6 linked regions of the Homo sapiens genome follow. The gene in region 1 interacts genetically with each later gene. Each region holds a gene or a part of one and is shown in the gene's direction. Other genes may lie near its edges. The genes, in order: ZCCHC9, EXOSC9, MPHOSPH6, CTNNBL1, EXOSC2 and UBA2.

What was found.
Region 2: changes in ZCCHC9 (region 1) and EXOSC9 together harm fitness more than expected from each alone (negative genetic interaction), as found in Homo sapiens cells (one large-scale study listed by BioGRID).
Region 3: changes in ZCCHC9 (region 1) and MPHOSPH6 together harm fitness more than expected from each alone (negative genetic interaction), as found in Homo sapiens cells (one large-scale study listed by BioGRID).
Region 4: changes in ZCCHC9 (region 1) and CTNNBL1 together harm fitness less than expected from each alone (positive genetic interaction), as found in Homo sapiens cells (one large-scale study listed by BioGRID).
Region 5: changes in ZCCHC9 (region 1) and EXOSC2 together harm fitness more than expected from each alone (negative genetic interaction), as found in Homo sapiens cells (one large-scale study listed by BioGRID).
Region 6: changes in ZCCHC9 (region 1) and UBA2 together harm fitness more than expected from each alone (negative genetic interaction), as found in Homo sapiens cells (one large-scale study listed by BioGRID).

The regions. Positions count from the first base shown.
Region 1 is NC_000005.10:81,308,087-81,311,586, forward strand, and holds part of ZCCHC9 (zinc finger CCHC domain-containing protein 9), read left to right. Parts: intron 1-474; coding exon 475-625; exon of another isoform or gene 626-859; coding exon 860-952; exon of another isoform or gene 953-2,888; coding exon of another isoform or gene 2,889-2,940; intron 2,941-3,124; coding exon 3,125-3,193; intron 3,194-3,500. Other genes in the region: ACOT12 (acetyl-coenzyme A thioesterase), read right to left, coding at 2,889-2,940. UniProt on the Homo sapiens protein: May down-regulate transcription mediated by NF-kappa-B and the serum response element.
Region 2 is NC_000004.12:121,804,323-121,807,822, forward strand, and holds part of EXOSC9 (exosome complex component RRP45), read left to right. Parts: intron 1-299; coding exon 300-437; intron 438-3,217; coding exon 3,218-3,300; intron 3,301-3,500. UniProt on the Homo sapiens protein: Non-catalytic component of the RNA exosome complex which has 3'->5' exoribonuclease activity and participates in a multitude of cellular RNA processing and degradation events.
Region 3 is NC_000016.10:82,160,225-82,163,724, reverse strand, and holds part of MPHOSPH6 (M-phase phosphoprotein 6), read left to right. Parts: intron 1-3,500. UniProt on the Homo sapiens protein: RNA-binding protein that associates with the RNA exosome complex. Involved in the 3'-processing of the 7S pre-RNA to the mature 5.8S rRNA and play a role in recruiting the RNA exosome complex to pre-rRNA; this function may include C1D.
Region 4 is NC_000020.11:37,732,030-37,735,529, forward strand, and holds part of CTNNBL1 (beta-catenin-like protein 1), read left to right. Parts: intron 1-849; coding exon 850-1,038; intron 1,039-3,500. UniProt on the Homo sapiens protein: Component of the PRP19-CDC5L complex that forms an integral part of the spliceosome and is required for activating pre-mRNA splicing.
Region 5 is NC_000009.12:130,696,780-130,700,279, forward strand, and holds part of EXOSC2 (exosome complex component RRP4), read left to right. Parts: intron 1-802; coding exon 803-848; intron 849-1,382; coding exon 1,383-1,472; intron 1,473-2,549; coding exon 2,550-2,615; intron 2,616-3,500. UniProt on the Homo sapiens protein: Non-catalytic component of the RNA exosome complex which has 3'->5' exoribonuclease activity and participates in a multitude of cellular RNA processing and degradation events.
Region 6 is NC_000019.10:34,455,881-34,459,380, forward strand, and holds part of UBA2 (SUMO-activating enzyme subunit 2), read left to right. Parts: intron 1-2,888; coding exon 2,889-3,044; intron 3,045-3,500. UniProt on the Homo sapiens protein: The heterodimer acts as an E1 ligase for SUMO1, SUMO2, SUMO3, and probably SUMO4. It mediates ATP-dependent activation of SUMO proteins followed by formation of a thioester bond between a SUMO protein and a conserved active site cysteine residue on UBA2/SAE2.

The DNA.
Region 1 (3,500 bases):
ATGTCTGACCCAAATTCATTCAATTATGTGAACTTTAAAAGAAATATTAATTTTTTAAAATTTTGAGTACATAATTATATACAAATACAAATTTTGAGTGACAGTTTTTATAGCCACTGTCCATTTCCTATAGAAAATGCCATTTTTCTACTGCAGACATTCCAGTTAATAAAATGAATAGTCCATATTTGCTCAATTCATTTAAGCAATTGCCGTCTACAAAGCCACATATATAACATTGTTCCTGAGATTTATGGATTTATTGATTGAGGTTTTCAAAAGCAATGAAACCCTCTGATGGAAAGGATATCTCGTTGTTTAGGAACGTATGAAAGCTTTTTTCTACAAATATTGAGATTTCAGAAAAATAGCTTAATAAGATGAGAAATGTTTTAAATATGTTTTTGATAACAAGAATTAATAAAGTCACTGGTATAGTTTTGCAGCGTGCCAACCTACGTTTTGTTTTCCTAGGTGTGTTTCCATTGTAGAAAACCTGGTCATGGAATTGCAGATTGCCCCGCCGCCCTTGAAAATCAAGACATGGGCACTGGGATATGTTACAGGTGTGGGTCCACAGAGCACGAAATAACCAAGTGTAAGGCTAAAGTAGACCCGGCTCTTGGTATGTGTTTCTTTCAGTTTTTTGTTTTGTTCATGGGGAAAGCCAATAAATAGCACCTTGGGTATTTTTTTAACACAATTTGTTACGAGTGTGCCACTTAGTATTTGGAAATCATATGAGATTAAATTTTAAGTTATGTAAATATATTTTTTATTCAGAGTATTTTAAAATAATGTTAATTTTATGACTTGCCATATGTATTGTCAACTGAATAGGAACTGTTGATTTTTACAGGCGAATTTCCTTTTGCAAAATGTTTTGTTTGTGGAGAAATGGGGCACCTGTCTAGATCTTGTCCTGATAATCCCAAAGGACTCTATGCTGATGGTAAGTACTGTTACCCTCATATAGCAGAAATGGTGAGTCATCGTGCAGTTGTGATTTAATTTACACTCAATCACAGTTCTTGAATAAATTCTTGAATAAATTGCAAAACCTTGAGAATTACATTATTTTTATCAAGTGCTATCATATGTACTAGGCTTTTTGTGCAATTTGACTTCAGATGTTAATAAAACAAATCAGAAAAAACTAAGGTGTATATTTCCAACTGTGCTTGCTTCATCATTTGTGAGACTATGTCATACATTTCTACTTTTAGACATAACAGAAGCAGAGAGATTATATCTCAAGCTAATATGAGGTTTTTAAAATCGTATTATATATTCAGCCTCAGCCAGCATATCATTTTGGTGGAGGGGTGGGTACAGATGATTCAATATTGTAGTAATGTTTGCTTCTGAATTTTTTTTCTTAGTTATTTGTCTGGTATGGGATCATGTAGCTTTTTTCTCTTTAACTCGGGTAATTAAGGTTCACACAGTAAAGTCTATGCGGTCTAAAGCTTTAAGGCGGAGGTTGTTATCTGTTAATGTGATGGCTGGTGCCATCAGGCTCTAGACGTTTCTTGTGTCATGTCCTGGGTTTCCCTCCTGGAGAAGTCCAGTGAAAAAGCATAGCTTTTGGAGTTGGTCAGACTTGGGTTACAGCGCCAGCACTGCCACTCACTAGCTGGGGGGCTTTGGCCAACTACCAAACTCTGATCTCCGTTTCCTCACCTATAGAGTGGAGATGATAAAACTATATTTTATTGATTCTAAGATGCACAGTTTTTCAATTTTAATCTCTTGGAAATCAGAATGTATCTTACCGTTGGTGGGTCCCATATAATTGACAGCTGTTTTTCTTTCTGAGAGGTATGTGCAATAATGATACATCTTATAATCAGTGGTGTCTTAGAGTTGATGAATTATGGTATTTGCCTAAAGAATTTTTATAAGGATTAAAATGTATTATTCAAGTGCTTCTCTTTCACTATGGCATATAAAGAGGCCAGGGCCTGGAAAATGCTCAGGTGCATTTCAGTTTTGAGCTTATAAAACTGGGTAGATAACATGACTAGTGAGCAAAAATGGCTTTCACTGGTCAACCAAAGTGACTAGCTGTAAAAAAAAAAAAAAAAAAAAAAATTAATGCAGCAAGGAGAGTAGATCCCATAGATGTGAAAATTTGGCCATATTTGCCTGTGTGTGCCTTGATTTTATACCTTGTAATCTTTTGTTTACAATAAGGGGCTTTCTGCGATTTGTTTTAATTTAGAACACTTTAGTAGCAATAGAAACACTGGATACATTTTTGTATGGTACATTTGATGTATATAGAATTAGTACTTTATTTTTAAGAGGTAAAGCATTATGTTGGGGGAAAAGTAGGGTGGGTTTCCACATTTGCATTTTTATGTTAAAAATAAAGTCAAGATTTGGGGGAAAAAAAAAAGAAAATTCAGCCAGATTTGTATCTGATTAGGTCATTTTTCTAAGTCACTTAACATTTCGAGCATGATCAAGATAATGCTTGACCATTAAGCAATAGTGTTTGATCATTAAGTGAAACACTTATTTTAGAAACCACATGTGTTGTAATTCACAATCCTGGAATGTTGTTTAAAGTAGGCAGGTGGGCATTTTTATAGGGTTAGGGTGCCTGGCCAGTGGAAGGCACTGAAACAAAAATTAACTTTATTTCTTTCATAAATGCTTACCCCCATCTGATCTGTACAGTAGAACAGTAGTTTCTAATCTGTTTTTGGGCCATTGACTGTTTGAGAATCTGACATGCTATTCAGGAAAGTGCATCTGCTTACATCTTTTGTTTACAGGTCCAAGGGTTCACAGACTCTTGATTGTCTAAGCATTGTTAAGATCCAGGCTTCTGTGCAATAGCTCTTGAACAAGTGCCTTCCATCATATCTCATTTCTTTTTCCTACTTCTCAAGGCCAGGTGCAAGAAGCAGTGGGTGGGTACAATTTAGTGCTCTGTGAGGTTAAAAGGAATGGAGAATGAATTAATAGGAATAGTGGCACCTCCCTATGATCCTGGTCTAGCTACCTTTACAACTGACAGGGTTGTGAGGATCCAGTAAGATGTGAAAGTGCTTTGAGATGTTAAAAACCCCTTGCAAGTATGAGATGGTATTCAGTGGCTTTGCTCTTTCAATAGGTGGCGGTTGCAAACTTTGTGGCTCTGTGGAACATTTAAAGAAAGATTGCCCTGAAAGTCAGAATTCAGGTGAGATCTCTGGGCCTCTACTTAGAAGGGGTGAGATTAGTATTCCTCTGCGTTTTATTCTGCACTTGTTATTAATAACTCAATTGGGATACTAATGATTTTAAGACAACCTGTTTTCCTACTGTAGCAATGACTTAATCTCTGTCAGCAATAGACACACATAGTATTGAGTAACTGAATAGTTGGGGGAAAAAAGTGACCAGTAAGCCTTAGGGGACCCTGACTTTATAAGACACCTGATTCATAAGCATTTATATTTGCTAACTAATGAATTTAATATAATAGAGCCAATTCTGTTACTTACAGA
Region 2 (3,500 bases), on another chromosome or scaffold:
TGGTTTTTAACAGACATGATAAAAATGTAATTAGATTTGAGGTTAGGAAAATCGTAGTATTAAATGTTAGAGTGGTTCTGTTTATTTAAAGTATGTGTTCTGTTGTTAAACGACCCACATAGTATTTCAGATGTTTGGCTTAAATTTTCTAAAATATATTTTTTGTTGACAAAGTACAAGGAGTAACTGCGTGTTTTAACAGCAAGAAAAAATAATTTGTACACAATGTTACTTTTCCTGATAAATAGCCACTGGTTGTAATCAGTTAGGATTTATTTTTATTTTAAATTCACTATCAGGTTTGGCAAATACGTGTAGACCTACATTTATTAAATCATGATGGAAATATTATTGATGCTGCCAGCATTGCTGCAATCGTGGCCTTATGTCATTTCCGAAGACCTGATGTCTCTGTCCAAGGAGATGAAGTAACACTGGTAAGCTCCTATGTGAACCAGGATCCTTGATATGAATGAATGAGGAGGGTCTTAAATGTGCAGGCAACTTGTTTTTAGTGAAGTTATGTTGTAGATGGCAATTGGGTCGTTTCTAAAAATTTGTTTGTAAGACTGAAACTGCATATGGTCAAAATTGCCCTGGAAATCTCTTAACCGTTCCTCTGTTGAAACATTTGTCAGTAAGAACATACCCTAGCCTGGTTTTCCAGAATAGAATTAGATGACTATTTTGGATTGAACATTAGATGAAGTGGTTGACTTATGTTTAGGGGCCATATGTGTGAAAAATACATGAATCTCAGCACAGTGAGATGCTTACCCTGCAAGAGGCATGCAATAGCTGAAAAGCACTGAGGAATCAGCAGGTTCATATTTGTCTCCAGGACTTTTGTTCATTAGGCAAAGAGATGACGAAAGTCCATCAGAAATACCTGGAGGGCTTGTTAAAACGTATAGCCAGACTACTCCCAAAGTAAAACAGGGCTAGGACTTAAGATTTTGTACTTCTAACTTTGAGTTCTTAGGTAATACTGATGTTGCTGGTCCAGGGAGCACATTTTGAAAACCATTGACCTACGTTGTCTTTATCTTTTGTTCTGAGTATGTCAGTTTTGATTTATATAAATTACATGCTAGAATAGTGAAAGTGCACTGTAGTTGTAGTTTGAATCCTGAAGTTGCAAAAGGACACATCAGATGCCCAGATTTTCTAAGCAATGATTCATAATTTTGATTTTGGGCAGTAGACTGAAGCAGAACCATTAAAAAGTGAGAAATAGGGACAAAGGTTTATTAACAGTAGAGGTAATATTCTTTTAGAGGAGGGAGTTTATATAAGGAAGTGAAAAAAAGTAGAAAGCGATTACTACACTTGAAAAATCAATTAAAGAATACTGTGGTGTTATTGCTAGTGGGAATGTAAAATGGTACAGCCATGTTGGAAAAGTTTGGTAGCTTAAGTTTTAAGTGTAGACAGCATTCTATATTCAGAAAAATAACAGTAGAAGAAAATATTCTTTTTTTTTTTTCTTTTTTTTTTTTTTGAGACAGGATCTCACTCCGTTGTCCAGGCTGGGGTGCAGTGGCGTGATCTCGGCTCACTGTAACCTCTGCCTCCTGGACTTAAGCAATCCTCCCACCTCAGTCTCCTGAGTAGTGGGGACTACAGGTATGTGCCACCCACTTGACTAATTTTTGTATTTTTTGTAGAGATATGGTTTCACCAAATTGCCCAGGCTGGTCTCGAACTCCTGGGCTCAAGTGATCCTCCCACCTTGGCCTCCCAAACTGTTGGGATTACAGGCATGAGCCACCATGCCCAGCTGAAAACACTCTCTTATATGTACATCTTTCAGCAGGTTTGACCTTGTAATTTTTTTTTTTTCTTTTGAGACAAAGTTTCACTGTTGTTGCCTAGGCTAGAGTACAATGGCGTGATCTCGGCTCACTGCAGCCTCCGCCTCCCGGATTCAAGCGATTCTCCTGCCTCAGCCTCCCAAGTAGCTGGGATTGCAGGCATGTGCAACCACGCCTGGCTAATTTTGTATTTTTAGTAGAGACAGGGTTTCTCCATGTTGGTCAGGCTGGTCTTGAACTCCCAACCTCGTCCACATCGGCCTTCCAAAGTGCTGGGATTACAGACGTGAGCCACTGCCCCCAGCCGACCTTATAATGTTAAAACAAACTGCAATGGCTTAAAATTAGAAAAAAAAAAAAAAATTCTAGCAATTCCATGCCTAAGAATCTACGGGAGGAATAAGAGCTTACTACGTTCAGAGACTTCAATGCAAGTGTTCATAGCATCATTTGTTAGCCAGAAACTGGAAACAATCCAAATGTCCAGCTGGTGAATAGATAAAATGTCATATATACAAATAATGGAATGCTGTTCAGTAATGAAAAGAACTGAACTACTGATAAATGCTGCAAGGTGCATGAAACATGCTAAGTTGAAAGAAGCCAGGCACAAAACATTACAACTTTTTTTTTTTCCATTTATATAGAATGCTCAGAAAGTCAGATTTATAGAGACAGAAATAAGATAGATCAGTGATTCCTTGGGGCTAGGGTGGGAGTACACCAGACTCCTACGGACTACAGACAGATTCAAAGGAATTTTGGGGAGTAATGGAAATGTTAAAAAACTAGATTGTGGTGATGGGTCCGTAAATGTATCCATAACTATACATTTACTAAAAATTGAATCATATACTTAAAATGAGTGGATTTTGGCTGGGCGTGGTGGCTCACACCTGTAATTCCAGCACTTTGGGAGGCCAAGGCAGGTGGATCACCTCAGGTTGGGAGTTCGAGACCAGCCTGACCAACATGGAGAAACCCCGTCTACTAAAAATACAAAATTAGCCGGGCGTGGTGGCACATGCCTGTAATCCCACCTACTTGGGAGGCTGACATAGGAGAATCGCATGAGCCCAGGAGGCGGAGGTTGCCGGGAGCTGACATCTTGCCATTGCACTCCAGCCTGGGCAACAAGAGTGAAACTTCATCTCCAAAAAAAAAAGTGGATTTTATGGGATGTAAATTATGTGTCAGTAAATTTTTGAAAAAGCTTTTTGAAAAAGTTGTACAGTTTGAGGAACGTGAGTGGCAAAATCAAACTGGTAATTAATTAAAAGAAGTTATTTAGGTACTCAAAAGAATAAAGGAACTTCATTTTTTAGTATTTGATGTGCAAGATGATTTTTTTGGATGTTCATAACTTAGTGACTATAATTATTAAACATTTTCTTTTGAAACAGTATACACCTGAAGAGCGTGATCCTGTACCATTAAGTATCCACCACATGCCCATTTGTGTCAGTTTTGCCTTTTTCCAGCAAGGGTAAGCCTCGCCTTATTATGGGCCAAAATTACAAATGCAGCTAGGAATTTTATTGCTCTACTCAAGTATGTCATGTTAATATTAAACAAACACTTCCCTTAATAGTAAAGCACCTTGTATTTCCTTTCTTTCTTTGTAAGGGCATTAGTTGGCAAAGAACTTTCTCAGTAGAAGTAACAAAACTCTTATACTTTGATGAA
Region 3 (3,500 bases), on another chromosome or scaffold:
ACAGAGTTCATTAGGTTGAGCATTTTAAGGCAGGTCAGAAGTTTTTGTTTCTTCTTTTAAATTGTTACTACTTGTAATACCATCCATTTTAGCTAACATTTACTGAATCTATAGTGTGTACCAGGAACTGGGCTAAACACTTTACATCTGTAGTTATTGAATCTTCGTAGCAAACTTAGGAACTGCCTCCTATGATTCTGTCACTTTGTAGTTGAGGAACTGAGCTTAAGGGAGGGTAACTTGCCCAGCTTCACCCAGCTAGTCAGTGCTGAAGGCTGGGGTAGACAGTTTCTGGCCCACCCCTAAGCTTGGCTGGTGCCTGATCAACAATTTTGAATGAAGGAGTGTTGGATTTATTTCATCCATTAATTTAGCTGAATCCTTCTGGAAGCTATTTTTCATTTTTCCCTGATACTTTCCTCACCTTAGTAAGCTCTGTTGTATGGTAGTTTTACTTAAACTTTGGTCAAATGACTGAAGATGCTGCTTACTGTCTTGAGGCACATTTATGTGTTTCCATTCTGTACCTGATGTTTGGGCTTTGATTTGGAATGTTATATTCCCCTGTTCATTTGGCTGACCTCTGGACATTGTTTGAAGGTTAGATACCCTTCTCTAAAGATAGAAAGTATGTCCCACCAGGAGGGATCGGGAGAAGGTACTTTTTTTCTCTGCTTCTCAGAGGAAGCAAGATGTTGGTGAGGAGGGAGAAGATAGTGCCAGGGGCAGGGTCACAGGGAGGAAGGGACCTTTGCTGCTGGAGCTATAATTTACTTTTATGCCTTAAGTAAACTTGCCAAAGTGTTCCTTCCAGTTGTTTATTAAAGAGCAGGACTGTTTCTATCTTGTTTCCAGTATTTTTCCCCTAATACAGCATATTATTCCCAGAAAATGACCTTTACATTTCTTTCTGGGAAGGTAAATAATGCCTTTTTGCCATTACTCAGCATCCTGTTTATGTATAGGTGTGTATATCAGCTCAGGATGTTGGCAGGAGAAGATGACACTCTCAGACTGAGGAGAGACTATCAAGGTGTGGGTGGGGCATAGGGGGGCCCCTCGGGGCAGTGCAGCACCTCCTAGCATGTGTAGTGGGAGTGATTACCACCTGAGCTTGCAGAGTCAACGGGTGGGTGGGGAATAGCTGCTACCGAATCTGCAGATAAGTTGTGTAGAGAGAGCACCTTACAGGAGCTGCTACCTCCATTCACGGGTACGGCCAGCCCAAGGTCATCCTAGCAAGGGAGCCAGGTACCTGGCAGCAAAGGAGCCCTTCCGTGCATTACGTTCAAGTCAGCCTCCCAGGCCAGAGAAACAGGTGAAGACGGGAAGTAGGTCTGGAGGGGTGAATGGATGACATGTCCTTGGTATACGTGTTGTATTGAGTTGTTGTTTTTAACACTCTAAATAGGGAGATCATGGAATGGATTGGTTGATTAAGCACATGGGCTCTGAAGTCAGGCAGACCTGGGTTTGATGCCCAGCTCCGCCAGTTGTTTACTTGTCACCTTGGGTGAGTTACTTAACCTGTTTTGTGTCATTTGTGTATTGGGTATGATGATAGTACCTGTCCAGTACATTCCGAGAAGTAGATGAGGTAATATATGTAAAACAGTCACCATAACACCAGGCATAAAGCACAGTGATTGTCACCATTGTGTGTATTTCCTTATATCTGAATATATGAAGTACACCCATTCCTTTCTACTCACTTATGTTTGTGTATCCTTTTTTGCTAGTGTTGTCTTAACTATTCTGTGAATTTGGAGATTGCATGTGTCTGTGCTCTGAAAGTCTCGACTTTCCCATTTTTAATGTCAGCCGTATCAGTCTGTAATTCAGTGAAGATAATTAGGGCTATTCAGTGTTAACACTGCCTCACAGGGGACACTTTTAGCCAGTGGCTAGACCATGTAGGGGAATGATGATCTAGCTGCTGTGCCTCAACTTGGAACAACTGAAGGGCATTCCTGACTCCAGAGCTCTCATATGTGGCTGAGGCCTTAGTGTAGCCACATTGCCCATTATCTTCTCCCTCTGCCCAATCCTTCTTTCTCTGTTTTCCTAGAAGGGCATCTGCTGAACAACACTGCCTGCTAAGTTTTCTGCATATATGTCTGTCTCAGAGTCTGTTTCCAGGGAACCCGATATAGTGTGAATTCCTAGGAGTGAAATTTACCAGATGAAAGATTTTGCTATCTATTGCCTTATTGTTTTTTTCCCCAAGGATATGGTCCAGAAAGAGTGTGCAAGTATAGGCAGTTTAATTCCTCCTTTGCCGTAGCAAGTTGTTTAAGAAGTATTTTTGGCTATTGTACATCTTATACTTGTGTTTTGTGGTCTGTTTGGAGTCAGAAGCTATAGGGACCTGAAACTAACAAGTTAGCCTGCCACACTTTCACTGATGCTGGTGGAAGATAGGAACCTTCTGGGTCTGAGATGTAGGGGAGGGACAATAGCCTTTCCTTCCACCCATTTGAAGTTCATTAGTTGGGGTCCCTGTAACAAAAGACAGATTAACAAAGAGAAAGGTATACACTTTTATTTCACAAAAGTTTTAGGTGACACAGGAGCCTTCATAAGAAAATGAATACCGAAGAACTGGTTGAACCTGAGTGTTTTTATGTTAGCTTTGATGAAGAGTGGAAAGTTGTGAAGAAATATGATGGGAGCAAGGGGTATGAACGAAGAGTAATAAGCCAGGAGAAACTTAGCAAGTCTTTTGTTCAGATTCCTCTCTCTGTCCCTTCTTCTGAGATAAGGATGTTGCTTTCCTCTGAGTGTAGGGAGGGCACCTCTTATGTGAGATGCTTTTATGACCTGCTTCAGGGGACAGTCAGAAAATCCTACCTGCACGTCATTTTTCAGATTCCTCCAGTGTAAAATTTTCAGTATGCCAAGATGCCATATTTTGGGAGTAGTGTCTCCTGAACACCATCAGAAACAAAGGACTTACTGTACAGCAAGCAGCACAAGCATCAAGTTTGCGTCATTTCTCTTTTGTCCCCAACTCCTATGAGGGATGGCGTGAAGTGGCCCAGGTGGATGCTGTGCACCCAGTGGATTTGCATCATAGCTGAGATCTCCTGAGCTTAGAAAACTGGAACCTTGGATAACGGACCACAAGCAGACTTGCCTTCGGCCCCAAGAGAGGCATCTGTATTATGCTGGACAGTAAGCAAATCTGCCCTTCGCTTTAGAGGAAGACTGTTTTTCAAGGCTGCTCGCTATGCAGATATCCTTGCAAAGATAGTCCAGAGCAACCGGGCAGTTAGTGCCTCACTCAAAAAATGTGCAGGAATGTGAGACCCACTGAGAAGGGTTTTCTAACTGGAGTTTTGCCATGGTATTTGTGGCTTTAGGCAAGTCCAGCTTTTTCTGAGCAGTAGTTTCTCATCTGCGAAATTTATGAAATAATTTTGTGGGTGTGTTTTAGCCTGAAAATTATCCTCATTAATGAAAATTGGATAATTAAAATACAAAAAGAGGTAAGTTTTGAA
Region 4 (3,500 bases), on another chromosome or scaffold:
CAGTGCACAGGGTTCTCTTTTCTCTACACCCTCAACAACACTTTATCTTCTGTCTTTTTCATGATAGCCATTCTGATAGGTGTGACATGATAACTCATTGTGATTTTTCTTTGCATTTCCCTGATGATTAGTGATGGTAAGCATTTTTTTCATATATCTTCTGGCCATTTGTACATCTTCTTTTGAGAAGTGTCTATTTAGGTCCTTTGCCCAGGCTCTGGGCCTTACTCAACTCTTCTGTAAAATAGAATTGGGAGTACAGTAGACATTCAGAAGTTACATATGTAATATTTTATGTTTGTACTATTTGTGAGTAACTGTAAAAAAGGCTTTGTAATCTTACGTAGATGTGAATTAAAACCAGGTGCTAAGACGCTGGCATTGGGAGTTATATCTTGACTAGTATGTGAGCCTAACCCAGTGTCCCCATCTTAAGATAGCTTTGTTGCTATTTCCGTATACATAGGAACTTTTGTGAAATGGCAAAACTGCGTATAAAAAAATTCCCACTGACTTTCATGGTATATTTATAGAATCATTAAGGATCTGAAAAATGACCACATAGAGCTTTACCCCATGTGGTGGGAGAAGTTGTATGCTGGATGCTTTTGAGTCAGAGAATTCTTGAAAGCTTTTAGGATATTTGCTGTCTATGCCTTGCAAAGTCTTTTTTTGTATTTTTTGTAGAGTCAGGGTTTTACCATGTTGCCTCAGGCTGGTCTCAAACTCCTGGGCTCAAGAGATCTGCCTGCCTTGGCCTCCCAAAGTGCTGGGATTATAGGCATGAGCCACCACGCCTGGCTTCTATGTTGTATCCAGCTCTAAAATCTTATGTTTCTTTTCTCTCAGCCCAATAGGGGCACAAAACGTCCCCGGGATGATGAAGAGGAGGAGCAGAAGATGCGTCGGAAACAAACTGGTACTCGAGAACGCGGCCGCTATCGGGAAGAAGAAATGACTGTGGTGGAGGAAGCGGATGATGACAAAAAAAGGCTGCTGCAGATTATTGACAGAGATGGGGAAGAGGAAGAGGAAGAGGTAACGTGGCAGCGCTGGGTGGGAGCTGAGATGGCTGGCCCTGTAAAACGTAATTTTGGGCCAAATACTAAGCTTGTCTGAGCTTCCCATCTTCATCTGTAAAATGGGGTTAAGAATTCATATTTCATCGCGTTAATGTGAAGGTTAAGTGGGCTAGTGCAGTTGGGAAAGCATCTTATGAGATGTAAAGAATGTGACAGAGTTTTAAAATTGTTCCATATTATGTACTGTAGGGGAGGGTCAGGGCAGGCTTCCTGGATCTTACTGAGGACACATAGAAGGCACTTGCATTATTATCTTTGAAAGAGGGGTCAAATTTCACCAAGTGGAAGGAAGGGCTTTTTGGGCAGAGAAAATGGTATTAGCAAAGCAACAAAAGTGGAGAAGTTTAATGGGTTCCACAGTATTAGGTATTTAGGTGTGACTGCAAAAGTACAGCTTAGGGAAGGAGATTCCTCGGGCCTTTCCCTTTGCTGTTCCTCAAGATGCGTTGGGGCCTTTCCACTCATTCCTGCCTCTGGACCTTTGGACTTCTGTGTCCTCTGTTGGAATGCTCGTCTCCCTTAATGCTTTGTATGACTGGTTTCTTCACATTCAGGTCTCAGTTCAGATGTTTCCTCCTCCAAGAAGTCTTTCCTATGTAGCCCTGCAAGCCATTCTCTCATTTCCTCATTACTGTATTTTGTATATTGTCTGCATAGCACGTATCATGATTTGAAATTCTAGTTGTTTATTTTGCTCATTGCTGTCCTCCTCTCAGCCTCCCATGAAAACAGAGACTGGCTCTGTTCTGTTCACAGCTCTATCTTTGGCACCCAGAGCAATACCTAGCTCTTGGTAGGCCCTTAATAAATATTTATTGAATGAATAAATGAATGAAGCTGGGAAGAGTAGAGGTAAAATATCAGTGATTAAAAACAAAATGACCTTACCTCTGTGTCTTTTTAAATCTTTAAGTGTTAACTTGTGTGTTATTTCACTCTGGCATTTTGTTCAATATGAATTATGGAAATAAGAGTCTTAAGAGCCAGCTGTTTTTTGGTTCTCTCAAAGACACGATGCTAAGTTTGGATTACAAAATGAGGTTGGCTGTGAATCTGAGAAGAAGAAAAAATGGATTCATATTCCAAAAAGGTCTTTACTGTGTTGTGACAATAGCTCTGTCTTTATTAGGATTTGTACTAGTGCTAATTTGGGGGTCTCCCGCTAAAAGATGATGGCACTTTAGAAATACGTGGTGGGAGACAGTCCTGAATTTTTTAATTTCCTCTCTGAGGGCAGCAGCCTTGCCAGGGCTTAGACAAACAGTGTGTGTAGCACATCCTCCCTCCCTTCCCTCCTCACCAGCTTCTGCTCAATCTGTTAGCCCTGCAGCAGCAGTTAATTGGCAGGTATAATTCCCATGTAGGGCAAGGCTGGTACTGGAGGATTAGGATAGTAGCTGTCATGGGTAAGTGGTTTCTAGCCTGGGAGACAGAAATGTAATGTGGGACCAACCCGTCTGTTAAGGGACAGGGAAAAAGAGATCGCTTTGTAAAAATGACACATGGAAGGCTACAAGTCCAGGAGTTATTTTCTCACTGCCACTGAAGTCCCATTTGATGAAAAACAAGTGATGTTTGCCCCTGTAAAGTCACGTGAACTTGTAAAATATTATTGTCCTTTTTGTGCTACATCATCAGCATTCATCTTTCTGAAATCTCCCTCTGGTTTCTGACGTTGAGCTATTGGAGATACTGCTGTGGCTGATGACTAAGACTGATAATTCAGTTTTCCCCCAGTGTTGGAGAGAAATTAAAGGAGGGAAGGCCAAACCCCGGAGAGGCTAGGACTTCGGAAATCCCATGAGAGCTGTGTTAACACTAATGTGGTTTTTCTCCAGAGTGGGGCAAGATGTTAGCTAAGAAAAGAAAAAGTAGCAGATATTGAGCTTACTTGAAAGTGATTTAACCCTTTCCTAGAAATGTTTTGATTATTTTAGTTAAATTCTAGTGGTATGTTGGGTACATTGTGCCTGTTGCTGATAATAACCATAACAGCTTGCATTCATGTAGTTTACAAAGTAGTTTTATGTACATCCTTTCTTTAGGTCATCTCTATGACCTTGAGAGATAACAGGTAACAATTTCATTCATCCCCTTCCTTCCCCTCCCCTCCCCTCCTCCCTTCCTCCATTCCTCAGATCTTCACTGAGTACCTGCTGTGTGCCAGACACTGGAGAGTCTACTTATGCCAGAGAACAAGTAGACATGGGCTAGCAATGGGAGTCTTTGCACTGGTTTGGGGTTGGAGAGATTATCTGGGCAGATCCTGCCAGATCCTTACGTAGATCATGTGAGGGATTTGGGATTTTATTCTAAGTGTGTAGTGGATGAGTTCAGGAAAGACTTAGGAGATAGAATTAGCTGGACTTGATGAAGCTTTGAGAAATATATTCAGCAAAGTAACATTGTCCCATGGCT
Region 5 (3,500 bases), on another chromosome or scaffold:
TGTCCTGGAGCGTGAGAGAGAGAGAGGAATCAAGGAACTCTCCGAGGTTTTTGGCCTGAGCAACTGAGGGGATGGAGTCACCGTTGACTGAGATGGGGACAACTCATCCCCTATCTCGGTTTGCTATGGAGGACTGGAGGGGGCTGCGGGAAAGCTTAGTTTTGTGCTTGATACATTTGAAAATGCCTGTTAGTCATCTAGATGGCAGAGTTGGGTAGCTAGCAGTTGAGTAGGATTTGGAATTCAGGAGAGTGGCACAGTCACAGCACAGAGTGGTGTTTTAAAGGTATTAGATTGAGTGGCCGAAAAGTGAAGAGGTCTAAGGACTTAGCCTCAGCACTGAGTACGTCTCATTAGAATCGCGGGTAAGGAACTAGCAAAGGGGCTTGAGAGGAGCAGGCAGTGAGTAAGTGGAGGAGACGTGAGCAGACTTGTGTGGTTGGAGTCCTGGCTCAGATTTCCTTTCTCTTCCTTTGGCTGGTGCAGAACTCATCCATGTGCCACAGGAAAATAGTCCGTGTTTTTCATTGTCGTGTAATCGAACAAAATAGGGTTTTTGGGCTAAATGAACTACTTGGAATGGTGATATGTCTAAGGATAGTTAATGGAGACTTTATACGTGGAGGAATGTTTGAAGTTAGCAGTTTCTGAAAGTAAGTCCAGACAATATAGTTACATGAATTTGCTGAATGTGGCGCCTGTTCCAGGCTTTCACCCTGTTGAACCGACATCTCAAATGGTGTGTGGTCTTGTCAGAAAGTCTGCTCACAGATGGATGAACCCCTTGTGTTTTGTCTTTCAGATACATTGGTGAAGTAGGAGACATCGTAGTGGGACGAATCACAGAGGTAACGTCGATATCAGATTGGTGTTTACAAAGTCGAGGCAGGCTGGCGATTTCATTCATGGGACAGTCATTCCACTTGTAGTTACATGAAAAAGGCATTCATTGCATTTGGCCGTTGTGTGGCTTCTGATGTAAATATGTGGCTTGTTCGATTTCAGATTACTGGTTCATGTTTTTTTTTTTTTGAGATGGAGTCTCGCTCTGTCGCCCAGGCTGGAGTGCAGTGGCATGATCTTGGCTCACTGCAACCTCCACCTCCCAGGTTCAAGCGATTCTCCTGCCTCAGCCTCCCAAGTAGCTGGGATTACAGGCACCCGCCACCACGCCCAGCTAATTTTTGTATTTTTAGTAGAGATGGGGTTTCATTATATTGGTCAGGCTGGTCTCAAACTCCTGACCTCAAGTGATCCACCAGCTTCGGCCTCCCAAAGTGCTGGGATTACAGGCGTGAGCCACCACATCTGGCCTTACTGGTTATTTATGATATGACACATGAACATGGAGCATGTGTCCAGGTGTGGAACTTGGCTTATAGGTTCAACAGAAGAGGTGGAAGGTGGAGACCAACTCCAGGCTGGATTCGGTCTTGCTGCTCTCGTCCATGAACCTTCCTGGAGGAGAGCTGGTAAGGGCTACAGCTGGGGCCATGGACTAGGGCCCAGTGGGCTGGGGGGAGCCGTGGGACCCTTTGTTCCACCAGAGGACTTTGATTTACACTGAGGTTGCCCCTTTGACTCCTGTTTGTCTGCTGTGAAGTTTGCTGCCTAGATGTGTATGTAGACTTTTCACCCTGTCCAGGTCTCCCGAAAGAGGGAGCAGTTGGCATATGGTAGGATCAGAAACATCCATGGGGTGGGATCCCAACAGAGAGTTGGGGAGAGAAGCCCTTAGATGCTGGTTGTTAACAGTTTTCCTTTTTGGATATAACAGCCTTGCATAGTGAAGATGTTCCTTGAAAAGTTGTCTTTACATTAGGTTTTTGTGAATTGAAAGGCATTTCATTCAACCATGTGTGGAATGTGGTTGCTGGCATTCCAGACAACCACAGTAACTAAGCCACAGCCTTTTGTAAAATGCCATGGTTCACCTTGATCTTCAGTCCAGCGTGTATTTACAGAGAGGCTTACTGTGCCAAGCTCTGTGCCGAGTGCCAAGCACGATTGAGTTCCCCAGCAGGGGATATAAGATAACTGACCTAGTCCCTGGCAGTAGAAGAATAAATAAGCTGTGGTTATACAAAAGGAAATTTCAGTGAGAGAAGCTTGTAGGAAAGACAGGCATTGGAGTTGATCCTGGAAGGATGGAGAGACTTTGAATGACTAGTTCAGGGAATCTGAGATAAAGGGAAATGTATGAGCAGAGATATATCCAAGCAGGAGTTAGTCTGGTCCTGCTGGACCACAGAGGGCTGTCATGGAAGATGACTATGGAAATGTTGGCTAGGTGAGATTGGGAGGGGTCTGAATGTTCCTCAGAGAAGGGAGGGAAAGAGGAAGAGGAGCTGTGGAAAAGTCTTTTGAGATGGAAAGTCGTGATTATCACTGATTCCCCTCAAGTGGCTTGGGTTACCTACTCTTGCTATAGTTCTCAGTGCTTGAATATTGTGGTTGGCCTCAAACATCTCAAAAGGAAGTGAAAGAGAAGTGATGGAGACCTTTCTGAGGATCTGGCTTAAGTAATGTCATTTCTTTGTGTATTTCAGAGGAGAAGATCTGCAGAAGATGAGCTTGCAATGAGAGGTTTCTTACAGGAAGGGGACCTTATCAGTGTATCCTGCGCTTTGCACTCCAGCCTCTTGATGCTTTTCTGTGGGACTGGGAAATGGGCCTTCCATTGTATGTCTCTGACGGAAGAACCATGTCATCCTTGCAGGGATCCGAGTCTTAGACCAAGTGTCGGGCTCTGCTGCATCCTTTCTCAGTCTCCTTAATTCAGGCTGACTCCCCAGCTCTTGTTGGGACCTGCTGCTAAGTCATTTCTTTGGGTCTTGTAACTTACGGTGGCCTGTGCTTTAGACTAGGCTTTTGTTAATGGTGTTAACTTTTAGCGCAGGGAGTGGAGAAGGTGTTGTTCACGTCAAGATATTAATGACAGGCCGAGTGTGGTGACTCATGCCTGTAATCCCAGCGCTTTGGAAGGCCAAGGAGGGAGGACTGCTTGAGCCTAAGAGTTCAAGACCAGCCTGGGCAACATAGCAAGACCCCCCTCTCTACAAAAAAATTAAAAAAGAATTAGCCGGGCGTGGTGGCACATGCCTGTAGTCCTAGCTACTCAGGAGGCTGGGGCCAGAGGGTTGCTTGAGCCCAGGAGCTCAAGGCTACAGTAAGCTATGATCACACCACTGCATTCCAGCTTGGGTGACAGAACAAGACTCTGTCTCTATTTTATGTTATTTTTTAAATTTTTCTTTTTTTTTAATGACGGAGTCTTGCTCTGTTGCCCAGACTGGAGTGCAGTGGCGCGATCTCGGCTCACTGCAACGTCCGCCTCTTGGATTCAAGCAATTCTGCCTTAGCCTCCCAAATAGCTAGGATTACCGGCGTGCGTCATGCCTGGCTAATTTTTGTATTTTTAGTAGAGACAGGTTTCACCATATTGGCCAGGCTGGTCTCAAACTCCTGACCTCAGGTGATCTGCCCACCTCGGCCTCCCA
Region 6 (3,500 bases), on another chromosome or scaffold:
CCGCCCACCTCGGCCTCCCAAAGTGCTGGGATTACAGGCATACAGGCATGAGCCACTGCGCCCGGCCTTTTTTTTTTAAACTGATGGGGTCTTGCTATGTTGTCCGGGTTGGTCCTGAACTCCTGGGCTCAAGCAGTCCTCCCACCTTGGCCCCCCAAAGTGCTGGGATTACAGGTGTGAGCCACTGCACTTGGCCCGATGCGCTCTTTTTTTCCTTTTCTTTTTCTTTTTTTTTTTTTTTTTTGAGGTGGAATCTTGCTCTCACCCAGGCTGGAGTACAGTGGAGTACAGTGATGTGATCTCGGCTCACTGCAACCTCCACCTGCTGGGTTCTAGCGATTCTCCTGCCTCAGCCTCTCAAGTAGCTGGGATTACTGGCACATGCCACCACACCTGGCTAATTTTTGTATTATTAGTAGAGACGGTGTTTCACCTGTTGCCCAGATTGGTCTCAAACTCCTGGCCTGAAGTGATCCGCCCTTCTCAGCCTCCCAGAGTACTGGGATTTCAGGCGTGAGCTATTGCGCCCAGCCTCGATGCACTCTTAAAATATTTTATTTTCATGAAATTTCAGTTTGAAGGAACAGAATCAAATTGCCCAGTCTGCCATCTTGATTTAGTTTTCTATTTAAACTTTTATTGTATATGTTATATTTTTAATTTCTAAGAACTTTATTTTTTGGTATCTTTTTTTTGAGATGGAGTCTTGCTCTGTCACCCAGGCTAGAGTGCAGTGGCGCGATCTCAGCTCACTGCAACCTCCACCTCCCAAGTAGAAGTGATTCTCCTGCCTCAGCCTCCCCAGTAGCTGGGATTACAGGCGGGTGCCACCACGCCTGGCTAATTTTTGTAGTTTTAGGAGAGACAGGGTTTTACCATGTTAGCCAGGCTGGTCATGAACTCCTGACCTCAGGTGATCTGCCCACCTTGGCCTCCCAAAGTGCTAGAATTACAGGAGTGAGCCACCGTTCCTGGCCGATACCCAGTTTTTAAATTATTTAAAAAAAATTTTTTATAGCAGCCTGAAGCTGTAGTATCCCTTTGAGCTCACCAACAGTACTAATTACTGAACTTATTAAAATGTCTGTTATTTCCCATCACATCCTTCCGGTTTCTTTGCCTGCTTAGCTCCATGCCACTCTTGGACTATTAATAGTAATATATCTGGCCGGGCACGATGGCTCACACGTGTAATCCCAGCTCTTTGGGAGGCCGAGGCAGGCAGATCACCTGAGATTGGAAGTTCGAGACTAGCCTGACTAACGTGGAGAAACCTGGTCTCTACTAAAAAAAAAAAAAATATATATATATATATATATATATATATATATATAAAATTAGCTGGGCATGGTGGTGCATGTTTGTAATCCCAGCTACTCAGGAGGCTGAGGCAGGAGAATCACTTGAACCTGGGAGGCGGAAGTTGCATTAAGCCGAGATCGCGCCATTGCACTCCAGCCTGGCAACAAGAGCGAAACTCTGCCTCAAGAAAAAATATAGTAATATATCTGGATTTCATTTTTTTACATTTGCAAATGAATTCCAGCCTGGATTAATGTTAGCCCAGGTATTAATAGTGGTAGCAATTGCTTTTATTATTGTCAGTTTCCCTTAGCACACTTACCTTCCCGGTGAAGCCCAAAATCAAACAAATCTTTCTCCCTCTGTAGCCTGCTTGGCCTGGGCAGTTTGCTTCTAGCCCTTCCACCTACCAGTATTCATTGTACGGAGAAGCTATTTTACAGAGGACGGCTTTAGTGTCTCTTGAGGGATTTAGTTCTGTATTCTCAGGGGAATCCGTAGAGTACTCCTTTAGAATTCATTCCTCTTAGCAGACTCAACACTACATTGTAGTCACAAGATAAAGGTTTGTGTCTCAGCTTCTTGTCTTCTGACATTTGTTGTTTCTGTTGGATCTTGCTAGTGTTTTCTAAACTTTAGTAGAAGCAGGAGCTTGGAGCTTTTCTTAATTTCAGTGTAATTTGTATATTTGCCTTGGTTCTTAATTATTTTTTTGTTTAGTATTAGAGAAATGGTAAATAGGTACATATACTGCCAGAAATACATTTTTTTCCCTCATTATATAAATGTTATTCTAATCAGAAAATTTGGGAAGGCAGTGATGTTGATTCTAGACAACTGTGAAAGGCACTATCGTTAACTGGAGAAATTAATGTGTTGGTCTTGTCAGGAGATTGCTTGCTTGATAAGAATAGCCTCAGGGAGGGACACCAGCTGCTGATACAATGATGGCACCACAGATTAACATGCCTGTGCCCTTACTCTTGCCAAATCAGGTTGCAGAAGAACGCGGAGTCTTATATAATACAAGGAGATGTCTTTTCAGCAAGCCTAGCTAGCCTAGCCTTTAGCTGATTAGAAAAGAAGGTTGAGGCCGGGCGCGGTGGCTCACGCCTGTAATCCCAGCACTTTGGGAGGCCGAGGCGGGCGGATCACGAGGTCAGGAGATCGAGACCATCCTGGCTAACACGGTGAAACCCCGTCTCTACTAAAAAAAAAATACAAAAAATTAGCCGGGCGAGGTGGCGGGCGCCTGTAGTCCCAGCTACTCGGGAGGCTGAGGCAGGAGAATGGCGTGAACCCCAGGGGGCGGAGCCTGCAGTGAGCCGAGATTGCGCCACTGCACTCCAGCCTGGGCGACAGCAAGACTCCGTCTCAAAAAAAAAAAAAAAAAAAAAAAAAAAAAAAAAAGAAGGTTGAAAAACCAGGTTCCTAAAAAGGTCATGATTTTCCTGATCCATTTTGCCATCTGGACGGGAATTTTTAAGTCATTTTTTATTGGATATCTGGTAAACGAGATTTTAGATTGTATGGCGTATAAAATTACAGCACGTTTCCGATTTCTGCCTGTTATTTCTCCTCCAAAGATTTTTTTGAATAAACAACCAAACCCAAGAAAGAAGCTTCTTGTGCCTTGTGCACTGGATCCTCCCAACCCCAATTGTTATGTATGTGCCAGCAAGCCAGAGGTGACTGTGCGGCTGAATGTCCATAAAGTGACTGTTCTCACCTTACAAGACAAGGTCAGTGCAAGGCCTGGGTCTCTTTTCCTTTTGCTTTTACAGTATTACTGTGATGACAAACAAACACTAGCTGCTGATTCTGAAAAGGTCCAACTGCAGAGATGTGTGGCTGTGATTTCCTGGGTTATTTTGCCTTCTGGATTCCTGCAGGCTTTTCTGTCTGTGGTTCCAGAATAAGTGCCTCACATTCCCAGAATGGAGTAGGAGTATTTGACTGGAATCTGCAGCACAGTGGTGGCACAGTATCACAGCAAGCAGAGGACTTCTTTGCTCTTTGCTTCCCAGGCAGTGGGTAAATTCTGTATTTTTTGACAAATAACAGGTATCCTTGAATGGTCCTCACTGTGGCAGTGAGCAGATAAGTATTTGCATGCAGTGCAAAGTTTGCATTTCCAGTAGAGCAAAGCCCCAGTTACCAGCTTTGTATTAAAGGGTATAAGTAACTTGCAGAGTTTT